2 linked regions of the Homo sapiens genome follow. The protein of the gene in region 1 interacts with the protein of each later gene in a biochemical or structural test. Each region holds a gene or a part of one and is shown on either strand. Other genes may lie near its edges. The genes, in order: CPVL and BTK.

What was found.
Region 2: the proteins of CPVL (region 1) and BTK form a complex in vitro, tested with the Homo sapiens proteins (one study listed by BioGRID).

Annotation. Positions count from the first base shown.
Region 1 is NC_000007.14:29,058,516-29,067,906, forward strand, and holds part of CPVL (probable serine carboxypeptidase CPVL isoform b precursor), read right to left. Parts: intron 7,607-9,391; coding exon 7,508-7,606; intron 5,720-7,507; coding exon 5,546-5,719; intron 1-5,545. UniProt on the Homo sapiens protein: May be involved in the digestion of phagocytosed particles in the lysosome, participation in an inflammatory protease cascade, and trimming of peptides for antigen presentation.
Region 2 is NC_000023.11:101,348,542-101,355,834, reverse strand, and holds the end of BTK (tyrosine-protein kinase BTK), read left to right. Parts: intron 1-1,140; coding exon 1,141-1,205; intron 1,206-1,846; coding exon 1,847-1,965; intron 1,966-2,483; coding exon 2,484-2,641; intron 2,642-5,878; coding exon 5,879-5,950; 3' UTR 5,951-6,385; downstream 6,386-7,293. Other genes in the region: TIMM8A (mitochondrial import inner membrane translocase subunit Tim8 A), read left to right, coding at 7,171-7,293. UniProt on the Homo sapiens protein: Non-receptor tyrosine kinase indispensable for B lymphocyte development, differentiation and signaling. Binding of antigen to the B-cell antigen receptor (BCR) triggers signaling that ultimately leads to B-cell activation.

The sequences.
Region 1 (9,391 bases):
TCTGACCTATATCACTTATCTTCTCTTTGAAAACTTACTTTAACATTTCTTACAAAGCAGGTCTACTAGCAACAAATTCCCTCAATTTTTGTTTGTCTGAGAAAGTCTTTATTTCTCTTTCACTTTTGAGGAATACTTTTGCAAGGTGCAGAATTCTAAGTTGGTGGGTTTTATTCTCTCAACACTTTAAATATTTCACTCCATGCTCTTCTTGTTGGCATGATTTCTGAGGAGAACCTAGATGTAATTCTTACCTTTGCTTCTCTATAGGTAAGGTTTTTCTCCCCTTTGGCTTCTTTTGAGACTTTTTTTCTTTATCTTTGATTTTTTTGAAGCTTCCATATGACTTGCCTCCTTTTCTTGATTATTTTGTTTTGGCATTTATCTGACTCCATGTTTTCTGAGCTTCTGGAATCTGTGCTTTGATGTTTTACATTAATCTGGGAAAGTTTGCAATCATTATTGCTTTAAATATTGCTTCCATTTCCTTCTCTTTCTTCTTGTTCTGGTATTCCCTTTATGTGTATGTTACATCTTTTGTAGTTGTCCCACAGTTAAGGCTATTCAAAAAAAATTTTTTTAAGTCTTTGTTCTCTTTACTTTTCAGTTTTGGAAGCTTTTATTTATTACATCCTCATGCTACTCTTAGCTCAGCTGTGTCCAGTCTACTAGTGAGCCCACCAAAGACATTCTTTATCTCTGTTACAGTGTTTTTGATCTCTAACAGTTCCTTTTGATTCTTATAATCTCCATATCTCTATTTTCAATATCCATCTGTTCTTGCAGGTTGTCTACTTTTTCCATTAAAATCCTTAGCATATTAATCATAGATTTTTTGGCAAGTATTATCTTGATTCCTAAGCCAGGCAAAGATATCATAAGAAAAAAGAAAACTGCAAGGCTGTAACTCTGACATTCATGCAAAAATTATCGATAAAATATTAGCAATCCAAATTCAACAATACACCAAAAAGATTCTACAGCATGATCAAGTGGGATTTACCCTTAGCATGCAAGACTGGTTTAACATAGGTACGTTAATCAAAGTGACACATCACAGACTGAAAGACAAAACCACATGATCATCTCAATTGACACAAAAAGTATTCAACAAAATCCAACATCCTTTCTTGATAAAAACACTCAACAGTCTGGGTATACAAGAAAAGTCCCTCAACATAATAAAGGTCATTTACAAGTGACCTTTGGCTGAGTCCTCTCCCCACCCATGGTGTTTTAAACTCTCAGACTTGTCCCTATGGAGCCTCTAGTAATTTACCAATTACTGTTCAGGTTTCCCTTCCTCACCATTTGTTTCCATGGAGGGTTCTACTTACAGGTTTGCTCCTGTTAAGTTTTGACTCCCTATATTCATCTCTCTCTCTAATTTTGGAGGGCAGCAATTTGCCCTGTGACCTCAGTTTCAACAAATCTAAAAAGAGTTCTTGATTATATTTCAGTTTGTTTGGCTTTTTACTGTTGTTACAATGGAGTGGAGACTTCTAAGCTTCTTACACACTGGAATGGAAACTGGAAGCCTGTCCATTCTTTTTTATTTTTGTGTTTTCCAGGGTTTCTTGTATAACTTTTGAATGTAGCAAGATCTTAAAGACTTTCACAAAATTTGTTGAACATTTTTGGTAATAGCTTATATATATATAAATAAGCACCTTCTAACCATCAGGCACTCTTCTAAGTGTGTTTACATATATAATCTCATTTAAACCTCACAGAAACTCACACATAAATACTGTTTTTATTCCTGTTTTATAGACAAGGAAGCCAAAGCGCAGAGAGTTTAAGTTTCCTCTCCCAAAGGAGCATAGCCAGTGACTGGTGTAACCAGAGCTCAAACTCAAGATATGCAACTTAAGAACATGTTCATAACCACCATACTCTATTAACCAGCTAACTCCTAAAAGTCCTGATCATGTTTTGACTTCATTCAGTCATAAAGAATTCAAATAGCCCAACAGATTGTTTCTCTTTCTAGTTATTTTTGAAACTGCCAATATGATATTTCAATTTACCACCCAAACATCTGAAATTACTGAAAGGAAAATGACTTTTGAGTATGCATCTCCTGTATATCACTGTAAGAAAAGGATTATGTTTTCACGTAGCTTACATAGAAACTAACGTAGTTTACAGAGAAGCTAATTTTTATACAGAAACTACATGAAAACGTAATTCCAGAAACCCAGGAAGGTCTTCCTTCAACCATCAGAGATGCTCCACATTGGCCAAAATGAACCCAGTACTGGAAAAAGACCTCTAGTTCCTATGAATAGAAACAGGCATGCTATTTTCTATGACAAATTAGTACCGAGTCTTACATAAATATGACTTTAATGGTACTAACGTTTTAAGCCAACCTAGGTTGTTCTGATTCCCGTTCTGAACACTGAGGTTCAACATCATTAACAGACAAGCCAAAGATAATCACTATCCCAAGCGCTTTGCCAGCTGCGTGAGTGAACATGCTGTCTGTTTTAGCAGCAGCCACTTTTTGGTGGCATATTTTGTTCTGTTTCTTTATGGAAATATGGTTTATCTATACCACTAAACTCTTTTCTTTTTCTGGCAACCGATTCAGAGTTGAAAAGTTTATGCCAGACACGGTGGCTCACACCTGTAATCCCAGCACTTTGGGAGGCCGAGGCGGGTGGATCACCTGAGGTCAGGAGTTTGAAATCAGCCTGGGCAACATGGTGAAACCCTGTCTCTACTAAAAATACGGAAAAAAAATTAGCCAGGCATGGTGGCATGTGCCTGTAATCTCAGCTACTCAGGAGGCTGAGGCAGGAGAATCACTTGAACCCGGGATGTGGAGGTTGCAGTGAGCCGAGATCGTGCCACTGCATTCCAGCCTGAGCAACAGAGTGAAACTCTGTCTCAAAAAAGAAAAGAAAAGTTTAGAAAATACTGGATTTTGATTTTATTGGAATTCATAGTGGTAAGTTTAGGATACATGGGCAAGAGGGACAGAGAAGTTTAAATATCAAAATGCAGGATCACCTCTAATCAATATATTCTCCTTTATCAGTCAAAACATAAGGAGAGTTTATGTCATCAGGTAAGCTGTTTGTCCCACCTTACCCTCACATGGCTGAGAAAGGAATCATATTCTAGTTAAATTTGTACAGTGAGGCCAGGTGCGGTGGTTCATGCCTGCAATCCTAGCACTTTGGGAGGCCGAGGTGGGCGGATCACCTGAGGTCAGAAGTTTGAGACCAATCTGACCAACACGGAGAAAACTCATCTCTATTAAAAATACAAAATTAGCTGGGCATGGTGGCACATGCCTATAATCCCAGCTACTTGAGAGGCTGAGGCAGGAGAATTGCTTGAACCCAGGAGGTGGAGGTTGCAGTGAGCCAGTCGCACCATTGCACTACAGCTGGGCAACAAGAGCAAAACTCTATCTCAAAAAAAAAAAAAAAAAGTGTGTACAGTGAGAAAATATATCTCCCAAGGGCACAAATAACACATATCAAACTTATCTGCTCTCCTCTCAAAAAAATTCACTCGTTCCATTCCTTAACATCACATTACAGAACATCATCTTTAAGACATGAACGCTAACCTCTTTTTGGTTTAATAAATTTGTGGATAATAAGCACCTAATGGATTATGGACAGGTTTATAGATATATTTTTGATACAGCACTAATCATTCATTCATTCCTGACATCTGCTCCAGGCTGGTGGTGGTATGGGTGTCAGACTGAGAGTCTGCACGTTAGAGTGTGCCATGTACACCTATGGGGGTAAAGACAACGCGTTCTGAGAGCTCAGAGGAGAGGACAAACAGCAGTGCCTTCTGGAGGTCCTCTGAGAAGTCTTGAAGCAGCAAGCACTAAGGGCCACTACATGTCCCCAAGAAAACCAAACACAAGGATGGCTGAAATGCTGGCCTGACCTAGTTAGACTCTTTCTTTCCAAGAAAGTAAGTATTTCATCAAGTTTTGCAGGTTTATAATGGGTTTGTAGACTTGGCATATAATTGGTCTTAAACTATTTTCAACAATGGTTACGTGTCCAACACTGTACTAGAAGCAGGACCCAGAAATGGGCCTCCTAGGTCTGGCATATTCTAAACCACAGTCTAGTTAGGGTGCATTGGCCAGGGACTGCCTGGATAGTATTGCAGATTGTGCACTGAACAATCCTAAGACACACCATTCCTAATATACACATTGTAGAAATGAATATTCAGCATGCCAGCAAATGGCAGTAAAGAGTCTGGTTTTAACTAAGGCAGTATATCAGGACAATTTCTGAAAGATCGAAATAAAGTATCTTGAGGAGAGGATGCCTTTATTCTAATTCATACAAAAATCCTATGGGCTGCCGACTGCCCTGTTTTTTGTTCATTCAAAACAGGATATAGGGAGGAAGTGGATCACTCAGTGGTGGTCTCCCCAGTCATCAGTACAGGCATCCTTCGGAGTTGCCCTAGAGACGATCCCTTGGGCAAAGGCTAACAGCACTGGAGGACCAGAGGAGGAGCTGAGAGCGTAGTACCAGGAAAGAAATAATACACAGGCTGACTTTCCCCATGTCATTTGCTCTTGGTGTCCTCCTTCCCAGTGGGAGTTCCAGGGCCCATGTCTTCTTTGCCTGAACCTCCAGGGCTCCTTTTCTGTGACCTCACTCTCCACTGGCACCTCCACTGGCAGCAAAGGCAGAGCATTTCAACCAGACAGCACAATGGCTTGACTTGACCTACTTCCAAACAGGGACCCTTTCTCATTCATCATTTCAACCTCACACCCTAAGGAGAGACTCAAAACACTGTGATTGGGTAAAGTGAATGAATACAACCATTAGGCAAAATGCATTTTCAGAATAACCAGTTGATTTCATTTATCCCTGACGTCATTGGGATTCATGTAACAAAGCAACACATAAGAGAAATCTGGCTCTTACACACGGCCAGTCATCTTTTTGGCTCTGCAACTCTTCCTTTCTCAAGAAAGGATGAGAAGTGGTGTGTGCCAAAGGGAATTTCATTTTAAGGAATAATCAGGGGAAAGTGGTTAAATTATTTTATTTTATTTTTATTTTTTTGAGACAGAGTTTTTGCTCTGTTGCCCAGGCTGGAGTGCAATGTTGCGATCTTGGCTCACTGCAACCTCTGCCTCCCGGGTTCAAGTGATTCTCACGCCTCAACCTCCCAAGTAGCTGGGATTACAGGCACCCGCCACCATGTCCAGCTAGTTTTTGTATTTTTTAGTAGAGAGAAGGTTTCACCATGTTGGCCAGGCTGGTCTCAAAATCTTGACCTCAGGTGATCCACCCGCCTCAGGCTCCCAAAGCACTGGGATTACAGGTATAAGTCACCACAACGGCAAAAGTGGTTAAATTAAAAGGAACAATATAAAACTTTGAATTGGAATCAAACAAAGAAAGGGGCTGTTATTTATGCTAATGACACATCATAAAAGTTAAAAAAAAAAAAAAGGCAGGACTCAAATTACAAATCACTTCTGCTCTGGGTAATCTGAAAGTTCCTAAAATAGTAACTGAAGTAGCTCTCTTACCTTATAATTATTCATGATTTCAGTTAACCATGGCTTAACTGACTGTACTGTATCTTCTCGCAAGTACTTTTCAACTATAGTTCCATCATTAAAAGTCTGATTCCCCACGTGGATGGCTTGTCTCACCTCTGGGAGTGACAAAAATTTCACATAGTAAAGCTGATCCTCAGGTTCCTGGCAGAAGGGGCATTGGAAAGACATAGGGAACATGATTGGTGGCAGGAACAGTATGTTGGGAAAAGCTGTGAATTTCTCATAACATACAACATGGAGAAACGTGACGGGACTATTAACTTGTCGCCATTCTTGAAATTTTAACTCGGAGGTTTTGAGATAATTTAGGTGGAATCTTTTTACTAATTAGAAATCTGAAATACCCTTAAAATACTCTTAAAATACCCAATTTGCAAATACAGGATTTTCCTTTGCAGAAACTAATCTTTTGCAATCTGTGACTCCCATTAGCAACCCCACTAGAGGCAAAGAGAGAGAAAACAAAAGAGATGAGATTATCAAAATCAATTCACTCCTTGTTGGTGGCTCTTTGGAAAGAAGGTCAAATGGATCACAAGGGCCAGGTTGGTGGTGTGCTGGATTTAAAGCTAAGAATTTCTTTTCTGTGTTCTGCTGTTTATTAAAACCACACACATGTATACATGTGCCATGTTGGTGTGCTGCACTTATTAACTCGTCATTTAGCATCAGGTATATCTCCTAATGCTATCCCTCCCCCCTACCCCCACCCCACAACAGTCCCCGGTGTGTGATGTTCCCCATCCTGTGTCCATGTGTATACATATGTAACAAACCTGCACGTTGTGCACATGTACCCTAAAACTTAAAGTATAATAATAATAAAATTAAAAAATAAAAAAAACCGCACACACACACAAAATTGGATTGACTATAATAAAGGGGAAAATATGTCAAATGTGAAAAGAGATGATACTTTATGAAGGACACAAGACAGAAGAAAAGTTGTCCATGAAGCTTATTAAAAAAAAAACTGCAATAAAGTCTCTGTAATAATCATTATACTGAAAGAAAGGAGTAAATGCTTTAAAAAAAAAACAGTTACACAAGGATTAAAAAAACTGTTAAAGTTTGAGTTTGACAACTTTGTGCTTCATCAACAATTTTTACTAACTGTGAATATATTGTTGTAAAGAAAAAAAGGTATCATCACAAATTTTGTTTCTGTCTTGTCTACCACATGTTTTTCTCTTAGTAGAATCTAAATCCAAAACTGCAGCATTGGCGAATTCCACTGAAACTAACGTTATACTTTATTTACAAACTAGTTCATAAATCAGGCAATTTTAAAAACAGAATGCATTGTCATAAGCATTAGACAAAGATTATACAAATTCAAACACCTACTTTGGCTCCTTCTGTTTGACTAATTCTACACAAAAGATATCAACTTTGGCCTACTTTTATGAAACAAACTACTTGAATACTTTGAGAAATATTCCAGAAGGCTTGAAGTGAGGGCCATACTAAATGCATTAAACATCTTAAAAGTAAGACAAAGCAAATATTTTCATTAAGGCTTTGGCAGTTTTGATTATCCAAGCGTCTTAAGTACAGAACAAAGAATGTGGGCATTTTCAAGAGACTCGTAAACAGACTTGAAGCTCTGGGACCTGAGACCCAGAACTCCAATCCCAGCCTGTGTCCTTCACAAAAGTGCCTCTATAACAAGCTCTACTTGGGGGAAATCATGTTCATCAGAAGTTGTTTTGAGTTATCTGAAATATCACACATTCTCAGTGGTCAGATTATAACGTATACAACACTGATGAGGAAAAGATTCTATGGGTTAGTAGACCACATCACGCGGTACAGTTTGGACATGTTGGTCTAGTATAAAGTCATCTATAATATTTCCCAAATCAAAGGAAGTTCGGTTTTGCCAAAAGTTTTAAGCAAACATTATTATGGTTTTTAAAATGTCATTACCGTGCACCGCAAAAAGTTATAGTAATTACTACATCCTGTAACATTCTGGAAGTAAGAAGGATCACTTGTTAAGTCGCCATCTAGTAGTTTATCCAGTATCTAGGTTGGGAGAGAGGGAGAAAGAAAGAAAGAAAGAAAACATCAGTGTGGATAAAAATGTACAGACATTTGTCATTTCATTTATTCAACAACTTTTTCATTCCTTTATTGTTTCATCCAGCGCCCACTTATTGTGCATATTCTCTGTGCTAGACACTGTCATGGCACTGGAGAAATGGCCATCAACAAAACAGACCAATGGTCCTCCCCCATGGAGCTTTTATTCTGGTGGGGGACAACAAGCATTTCTAAGTAAATTATATCATATGGTAGACAGTGATAAACTCTTGAGTATGTTAGGGAATGACAAGGAGAAAACTAAAGAGGAGTAGGAAGTGTCATGTGTGTGCATGTGTGTATGGGACAATGTAGAGAGGAGGTCACAGAGGACCTCACTTAGAAGGTGGCATTTGAGTAAAGACATATTGGATGAGAGGAATAGAGCCATGCAGACATCTAGGGGAAGGAAGGTTCCAGGCAGAGGACACAGTAAGCTCAAAGGCCTTGCCTATGGGAGTAAGCCTTGTGGGAAGGGTGCCTTAACATGGATCATGAACTGCTCACCAGATGACATGGAGAGAAGACGCAGGATATGGTGCAGATGCAGGTTCCTGGAGCTGGTGGAAGTTATCTTTGGGCTGACATTAAAAAACCCAGTCACCAGCTGAGCGGGAGAGCAGTCAGCATGGTTGCATGCTTTCCTCCAGCCATTGTCAGCTGTGTGGAGACAAGCACAGCCTGACAGAGAGGCAGATTGAGCCAGGGCTGTGGTTCAGCCAAAGGAGTTGGAAGAAATGCAAAAGAGCTTTGGGCTTGGAAATGTATGGAATGACTGACCCTGGGTTGAAGACAGGTAATTAGAGAAATGGAGACTTGAGGGGGTTAGAGATAGTGGAGAGGCAGGAGGATCAATGGATTGAAAGGTAGTGAGGTTGCAGGGCTGTAAGATCAGTACATTAGCAGAAGAGATTCGGACAGGAGGTGGTAGTTGGAGAAAGATGTTTGAATGTGTGATTGTGGATCAGCTGCCAGCATTTTAGGGTATGAGAATCAGCAGCTAAGATGAGGAGGAGAACAAGATCATTGAAAAAGAGGAGGCTGAGGCACCAAGGACCAGGTCCCAAAAGGATCGTCAATGTGGATCCTGCAGTTACCAGGAATTATGACAAGAATAATGCTGCAGAGAGTGACAGGGAGGAAGGAGCTCAGCTATTCAAATGAGAGGGAGTAACCAGGGGTTGGTAGGCAGACACAGTTGGAAGTGGTCAGAGGCCCTGTCTGAGGACAGGAGAGTCAAAGCTCAATGCTTTAGGAGGAGGCAGGGAACATGATCTGAAAGTCACATGATGAGCAAGGAAGACACCTACTCCACCTATGAACCAAGTGATACAGACAAGCTAAGAGAGAGAACAGCCCCCACTCAAGAGGACCACAGGGACTGCAGCATCAGGGGAGAGCCAGGTTTCTGGCAAAGCAAGAAGATGAAGAGAAGAAAATAGTCACAGAAGAGGTTGAAGACATGGAGGGGGGTTGTTGATGATGATATTAAGTTGTAAGGAGTTCTTACAAAAGAATTCAAAGAAATGAAGTCAGCACATGTTAAAAACAATCTATCAAGTACAAATTTAGGTCTCTTATCAGATAAGGTATTATTATTCTAATTTTATGGGTGAGAAAACTGAGACACATGAGTTTAAGCAACTTGCCGAGGACACCTCACTAATAATGTCAGAGATGAGATGATTAGGCCACGACTCCTGAGCCTGCACACTCAACCACGCACAC
Region 2 (7,293 bases), on another chromosome or scaffold:
GTCACTCACTCCCAACCCCCTACCACCCACAAGAAAATGGTGGGGTCTTTCAGTGGCCATTCTGGATTTGGAACAGAAGGGACTGTGCTTCCCAATGGGACTGCTCCTGGCATGGGGCCATCATTTGGTTCCTTCAGAGTCACATACTGGGGCCTGTGGATGCATTTGGCCCACATGTGTGGGTTTTTTTTATGTTATATAATAATTAGCAAACCCTTAAAAAGAAACATTTCGCTTAAAAAAAAAAAAACCCTGGAATTTCCAGCTTCTCTTGAAAATCTACACCGTCTGGAAATACCAGGTCCACATTCTCACGAACCGCCTCCTTTCCTCTAGGCATGTACTCTCCATTTCCTGCAATCTCGATCCACTTCACTTCACTCTTACTTAACTTGCCTGGCCCCTGTAAGCATCAGAGTTTGCGCCCCTGTTTCTTTCAGTCAGGCCAAGGCTCAAATTGTCCTAGTCTCACTGGCAGAAAAGCAGAAAGCAAAAAAACTTACTTCTCATTCTCCCTTCTTTGTTTTTTGTTTGTTTTGTTTTGTTTTGTTTTGTTTTGAGATGGAGTCTCGCTCTGTTGCCCAGGCTAGAGTGCAATGGCACCATCTCGGCTCACTGCAAACTCCGCCTCCCAGATTCAAGCAATTCTCCTGCCTCAGCCTCCCAAGTAGCTGGGATCACAGGCGCCCAACACCACGCCCAGCTAATTTTTGTATTTTTAGTAGATGGGGTATCGCCATGTTGGCCAGGCTGGTCTTGAACTCTTGACCTCAGGTGATCCACCCACCTCGGCCTCCCAAAGTGTTGGGATTACAGGCGTGAGCCACTGCACCCAGCCTCTCCCTTAATTCTTTCAGCATATCAGTGAGGGAATGGGGTGGTGTGGAATTGCCCATGAGAATGCAATCGTTCTGTATGTCCTCAGTGCTTTACCTAGGACTACACAGCAGGTTGCTTTCCACGTGGTGGAAATGAATCAAAATTTCTTGGTGGCATCAACAGATTCCTATTAGGTGGGAAGGTGTCTGTAGTCGAAGGAGATGAAGCTTCCCTGGCTTCATTCTACTGGTCAGCAGAAGCTTTGTGCCTTTAACCTCTGTGCTGGGGACGGAGTCTCACTGGTCTCTGTTTGCACTACAGGCAGCTCGAAACTGTTTGGTAAACGATCAAGGAGTTGTTAAAGTATCTGATTTCGGCCTGTCCAGGTGAGTGTGGCTTTTTCATCTTTCCCTCCAGAAGTAAAAATAGCACAGTATGAAACATGGGTAGGTGTTACAGTTTTAATCCTCTCCTTTTCTTTTTTTTCTCATTCTAGCGTTTTCTGCCGATCTTTCTATTCTTTTTCTTCCTCTGAGTTATTTAAGCCACCTCTTTCATCCTTTTGTTTTATTGTCATATCCCTTTCCTTCCTTTCTCCCTTTATCTCTACCTCCTCTTTTTTAAATCTATTTCCCCAATACCTTATCTTGATCTATTAATCCTGATGACTTTACTCCATTCCTCCTTCTTTCTTAATCAGTCTAATTCCCAGTGACAACTGCAGATAAAAGGAAGGGAAGGAGAAGAGCAGAGAAAGGAAAGGTGGATAGAGAAGAGGAAGGGAGTACCTACTAGATCTTATTTCACTTCATCCTTCTTGTAACCATATTGTCAATCAGGAAAGCTCAATCAGATACAAAAACAGGAAATTCGTTAAAAGTAACGTTTGTAGAAGATACTAGTTGAGGAGGAGAGACTTTTGAGAAAGCCTGTGTGTGTTTGTGACACTCTTGTGACCGTGCCAAGAAAACGTAAGCAAATATCAAGCCTCCAAATCCTAATGCAACAAGTCCTGAATCCCTTGCAGGTATGTCCTGGATGATGAATACACAAGCTCAGTAGGCTCCAAATTTCCAGTCCGGTGGTCCCCACCGGAAGTCCTGATGTATAGCAAGTTCAGCAGCAAATCTGACATTTGGGCTTTTGGTAAGTGGATAAGATTACACAGATTATACAGCTCAAAGGATAAGAAATGCAATGGGAAAATTCACACTTTGCAACCTCCACAGAGATATTGTTCTTGCTTTCATTCTTCCAATCCTTGGGGAGTGCTTACTGTGTGTCAGCCACCACAGGGGTTTCTGAGGATGAAAACTAAACTGGACATGATCTCTGCCTTTTTAGAACTTAAACCATGTTAAGGAAAACAATTCATTCAGTTTTCAACAGCTTCTGAATACTGATTATGTACCAGGCACTCTGCCAGACCCTATAACTGCAAAGACAAATAAGATGCTGTCTCTCTTCTAGAGGAGTTAATAGTCTAGTACGACCTTGATCTCCATCTAGTGTGGTCAGTACTATAGCAGAAATTTGGGCAAAATATAAAAAGCACAGAGCGGGGAACCAACTGATTCTAATCTTTGAGGTTGATCTAGGAAGACTAGGACCCCTGCTATCCAAAAAGACTGCAAACCAATTTAATAATTTTTTTCACCTTCTAGGGGTTTTGATGTGGGAAATTTACTCCCTGGGGAAGATGCCATATGAGAGATTTACTAACAGTGAGACTGCTGAACACATTGCCCAAGGCCTACGTCTCTACAGGCCTCATCTGGCTTCAGAGAAGGTATATACCATCATGTACAGTTGCTGGCATGAGGTAAGTGCTTTATTAGGATCTCTTAAATTATTTCCTTGAATCTACTTGCCCATTTAGCTGGCCATTCAGCCACCAAAGACTGATAGCTGCACACATTCTTTTTTTTCCTTTTTTTTTTTTTTTAATTTGAGACAAGGTCTCGCTCTTTCACCCAGGTTGGAGTACAGTGGCGCGATCTTGGCTTACTGCAACCTTCGCCTCCCAGATTCAAGCGATTCTCATGTCTCAGCCTCCCAAGTAGCTGGGATTATAGGCGTGCACCACCACACCAAGCTAATTTTTTTTTTTTTTTTTGGTGACACAGTCTTGCTCTGTCACCCAGGCTGGAGTGCAGTGGCACGATTTTGGCTCACTGCAACCTCTGCCTCCTGGGTTCAAGTGATTCTCCTGCCTTAGCCTCCCGAGTAGCTGGGACTACAGGCACATGCCACCGTGCCCAGCTAATTTTTGCATTTTTAGTAGAGACAGCATTTCACCATGTTGGCCAGGCAGGTCTTGAACTCCTGACCTCAGGTGATCCACCCACCTCGGCCTCCCAAAGTGCTGGGATTACAGGCGTGAGCCACTGAGCCTGGCCAATTTTGTATTTTTAGTAGAGATGGCATTTCGCCATGTTGACCAGGCTGATCTCGAACTCCTGGCCTCAAGTGATCCGCCCACCTCGGCCTCCCAAAGTGCTGGGATTAGAGGCATCAACCACCACGCCAGGCCTTGCACACATTCTCTGACCTTGGCCTGCAACTTGATCATCTGATGGCCAGAGGCTTTCCCAGGCCCACTCCGATTCTCACTAGAGTGTCATTAGTACACTCCAATGCCAGCTCAGCTTTAGGGAGTGAGGTGTTGTGGGGCCATGTCATCTAGCATAAGCAGGCAGCCAGAGGCATTCAGACAAGTGAATGGGCATTACAAAAGAAAAGTCATGAAAGTTTGTTCATTCCTTTGTGTGTCATTGGCCCTTTCTTCTACTTTATTAGCTGCCAACCGTTTCTGGCTGAGGTCCTAAATGAGATTTTTTTTTTTTTTTTTTTGAGACCGAGTCTTTCTCTGTCGCCCAGGCTGGAGTGCAGTGGCGTGATCTCGGCTCACCGCAAGCCCCGCCTCCTGGGTTCACAGCATTCTCCTGCCTCAGCCTCTCGAGTAGCTGGGACTACAGGGGCCCGCCACCACGCCCGGCTAATTTTTTGTATTTTTAGTAGAGACAGGGTTTCACCGTGTTAGCCAAGATGGTCTCGATCTCCTGACCTTGTGATCCACCCGCCTCTGCCTCCCAAAGTGCTGGGATTACAGGCATGAGCCACAGCGCCCGGCTAAATGAGATTTTTTTTAAAACCTACTGCTTGAAAGGGAACTAAAACAGGTAGTGGGTTTTTTGTTTGCTTTGTTTTGTTTTGCTTTTTAATATGGTGCATCGTGGGGTATGTGGGTAGGTGTGGTATTTTGGAAATAAGGAAATCTGTCCTACTACTATTAAACTGCTTTGCTCCTCTTACCTCGAGTTCTTCCCAAGATGCCTTCTCTACTTTTCAGTAGATCCTTGGCAACCTAAATTTCTAGTAGGAAATAAATGCTCAACTCTTCAGAGTGTCCAACAAGTGCATATGTGAATCTGGAGCCTTCTTGGTGAGGTGAAAAGTGGGTATCTGGATCCGAGCATGGCTGGTTTCCCTCGAACAAATGACAGATCACAGAGAAAGTGCAGAAAGGGAGGACTCCTTCTTTCTTCTGTGTGATGCAGGATTAAGGGTGATTGGCTATGCTCCCTCCCAATCAGGACCTTCTTACTCTGCTAATTAAAAATGATTTCAGACAGGTACTTTATCCACAGCCTGTTTAAAGGAGTGGTCAAAATTGGATGCATATCAGAAACCCTAAGGAGCTCTTAAAAATGCAGATTACTGGCTGGGCATGGTGGCTCATGCCTGTAATCCCAGCAGTTTGGGAGGCCAAGGCAAGCGGATCACGTGGTCAGGAGATCTAGACCATTCTGGCCAACATGGTGAAACCCTGTCTCTACTAAAAATACAAAAATTAACCAGGCGTGGTGATGTGTGCCTGTAATCTCAGCTACTCAGGAGGCTGAGGCAGGAGAATGACTTGAACCCAGGAGGTGGAGGTTGCAGTGAGCCGAGATCCTGCCACTGCACTCTGGCCTGAGTGACAGAGCGAGACTGTGTCACAAAAAAAAATTCAGGTAACTGGGACTTTTCTCCAGAAATTCTGATTAGCTATGCCTGAAGTGGAACCCAGAAATCTCTTTTTAAACTTCCCAGGAAATTCTGATACTCAGCTAAGTTTAAGAATCACTGAGTCAAGGAATCAAGAAATTGATGACCATTGGTTCTAACAGATTGAGAGCATTCTGGCATGAATGTTCCCTGAACCACTAAATACCAAATACCTCGGGGGCTTATGGGCCATGGCCATCAAAAAGAACCTTAGTCGTAGGCCGGGCGCGGTGGCTCACGCCTGTAATCCCAGCACTTTGGGAGGCTGAGGCGGGGGAATTACCTTAGGTCAGGAATTCGAGACTAGTCTGACCAACATGGTGAAACCCGGTCTATACTAAAAATACGAAAATTAGCTGGGCGTGATGGCGTGCACCTGTAATCCCAGCTACCTGGGAGGCTGAGGCAGGAAAATCGCTTGAACCTGGGAGGTGGCAGTGAGCTGAGCTCACACCACTGCACTCCAGCCTGGACAACAGGGTGAGACTCTGTCTCAAAAAGAAAAAAAAAAAAAAACCTTAGTCTTTTTGTTACCAGTGGTAAAAAAAAAAAAAAAAAAAAAAAGGTCCCAGGTACTCAGAATCCCTGCTCAGTAATACAGCCTGTGGTTTTGAAATATTAATCACTAAAAATTATCACATGGGATTTCTGTTCTGCCAACCACTTGAACTTGTTTGGTAGCCATTTTTCACTTGAGGATCCAAAATAAGAATGTGTTGTATACAGTTACATAATGAACTTGCCCTCAATTTTGATCAGTGTGATTGTCAGTTTAATTTGCAAATTGTTCTTATCACACTAATAACCTGAGTTACTAAAGATGAAAAGTGCACAAAGACTTTATGGAGAGCTGCTATTTCTTTTTTTTTTTTTTTTCCTTTTGTAATCGACAGGGCATGCTACTGGGCATAGAGCATATATTTAATAAACATTTGCTGCTTACTCATTGCATTTCCCTTGAATTCTGGATTCTAGCCACTCTAACACTTTACTTTTTCTTTGGTTTTAGAAAGCAGATGAGCGTCCCACTTTCAAAATTCTTCTGAGCAATATTCTAGATGTCATGGATGAAGAATCCTGAGCTCGCCAATAAGCTTCTTGGTTCTACTTCTCTTCTCCACAAGCCCCAATTTCACTTTCTCAGAGGAAATCCCAAGCTTAGGAGCCCTGGAGCCTTTGTGCTCCCACTCAATACAAAAAGGCCCCTCTCTACATCTGGGAATGCACCTCTTCTTTGATTCCCTGGGATAGTGGCTTCTGAGCAAAGGCCAAGAAATTATTGTGCCTGAAATTTCCCGAGAGAATTAAGACAGACTGAATTTGCGATGAAAATATTTTTTAGGAGGGAGGATGTAAATAGCCGCACAAAGGGGTCCAACAGCTCTTTGAGTAGGCATTTGGTAGAGCTTGGGGGTGTGTGTGTGGGGGTGGACCGAATTTGGCAAGAATGAAATGGTGTCATAAAGATGGGAGGGGAGGGTGTTTTGATAAAATAAAATTACTAGAAAGCTTGAAAGTCTTTGGTATCTCTATTAATCATGCAGCCTCCCTGAAGCGCCCTATCTCAGTATTCCAGAAAGCTGCTGTGTAGCATTAGTTTGGCATATTCCTACACTGAGAACTCGACAGGATCCTCCAGGTTTAAGCCCTCTTGTTAACTCCTGCCTCTGAATCAAAGATGCATTAAGCAAAAACAGTGCCTGTCACAGCACGCATGCAATGTTATTTGAATGAATCTGAAAGTTGGGCACAAACTGCCATAGCCTCATTTCCCTACGTCGGGAGAGGAAAACTCCATCAAAAAACGAAAGCCAGGGGCCCAGGATAGCCAACTAATCGACCCAGTCAACTAACTGACCCAGTGCACAACTCTGGTAGCTCAGAAAACGCGGGCTAATTTGGAAGTGGACAGGGGCGGAGCTGTGGGGCCAGCACGGAATGGATCACGTGGTCTGAAGTAACTTCCTTTTCTCCTTTCTTTTCTTTTTGGAGTAACATCTCAACGGCACCTCGGCTCTGGGCTGTAAGCCCTGCGATCTCAAGGCGCAAGGCTGGGCGCAACGGCAGGGTTGCGGGGTTACGGGATTGCGGGGTCCGGGGAGTGGAACCCGCCGACTCCGGGAACGAAGCACCGGCGCCAAGGTGTGGGAGGCGGCGGGGTGGAGTTGGACGCCTGCCTCGCGCCGACGCAGTGCACTCACGGGGGCGGTCCCAGAGGCAGCTAGCTGTGGTTCCGGTTCCGTCGCGGAGACACGTGAAGGTCGGTGCGGAGTTCGTCTCTGCAAGCTTGGTCGCCCTGGGATGGATTCCTCCTCCTCTTCCTCCGCGGCGGGTTTGGGTGCAGTGGACCCGCAGTTGCAGCATTTCATCGAGGTAGAGACTCAAAAGCAGCGCTTCCAGCAGCTGGTGCACCAGATGACTGAA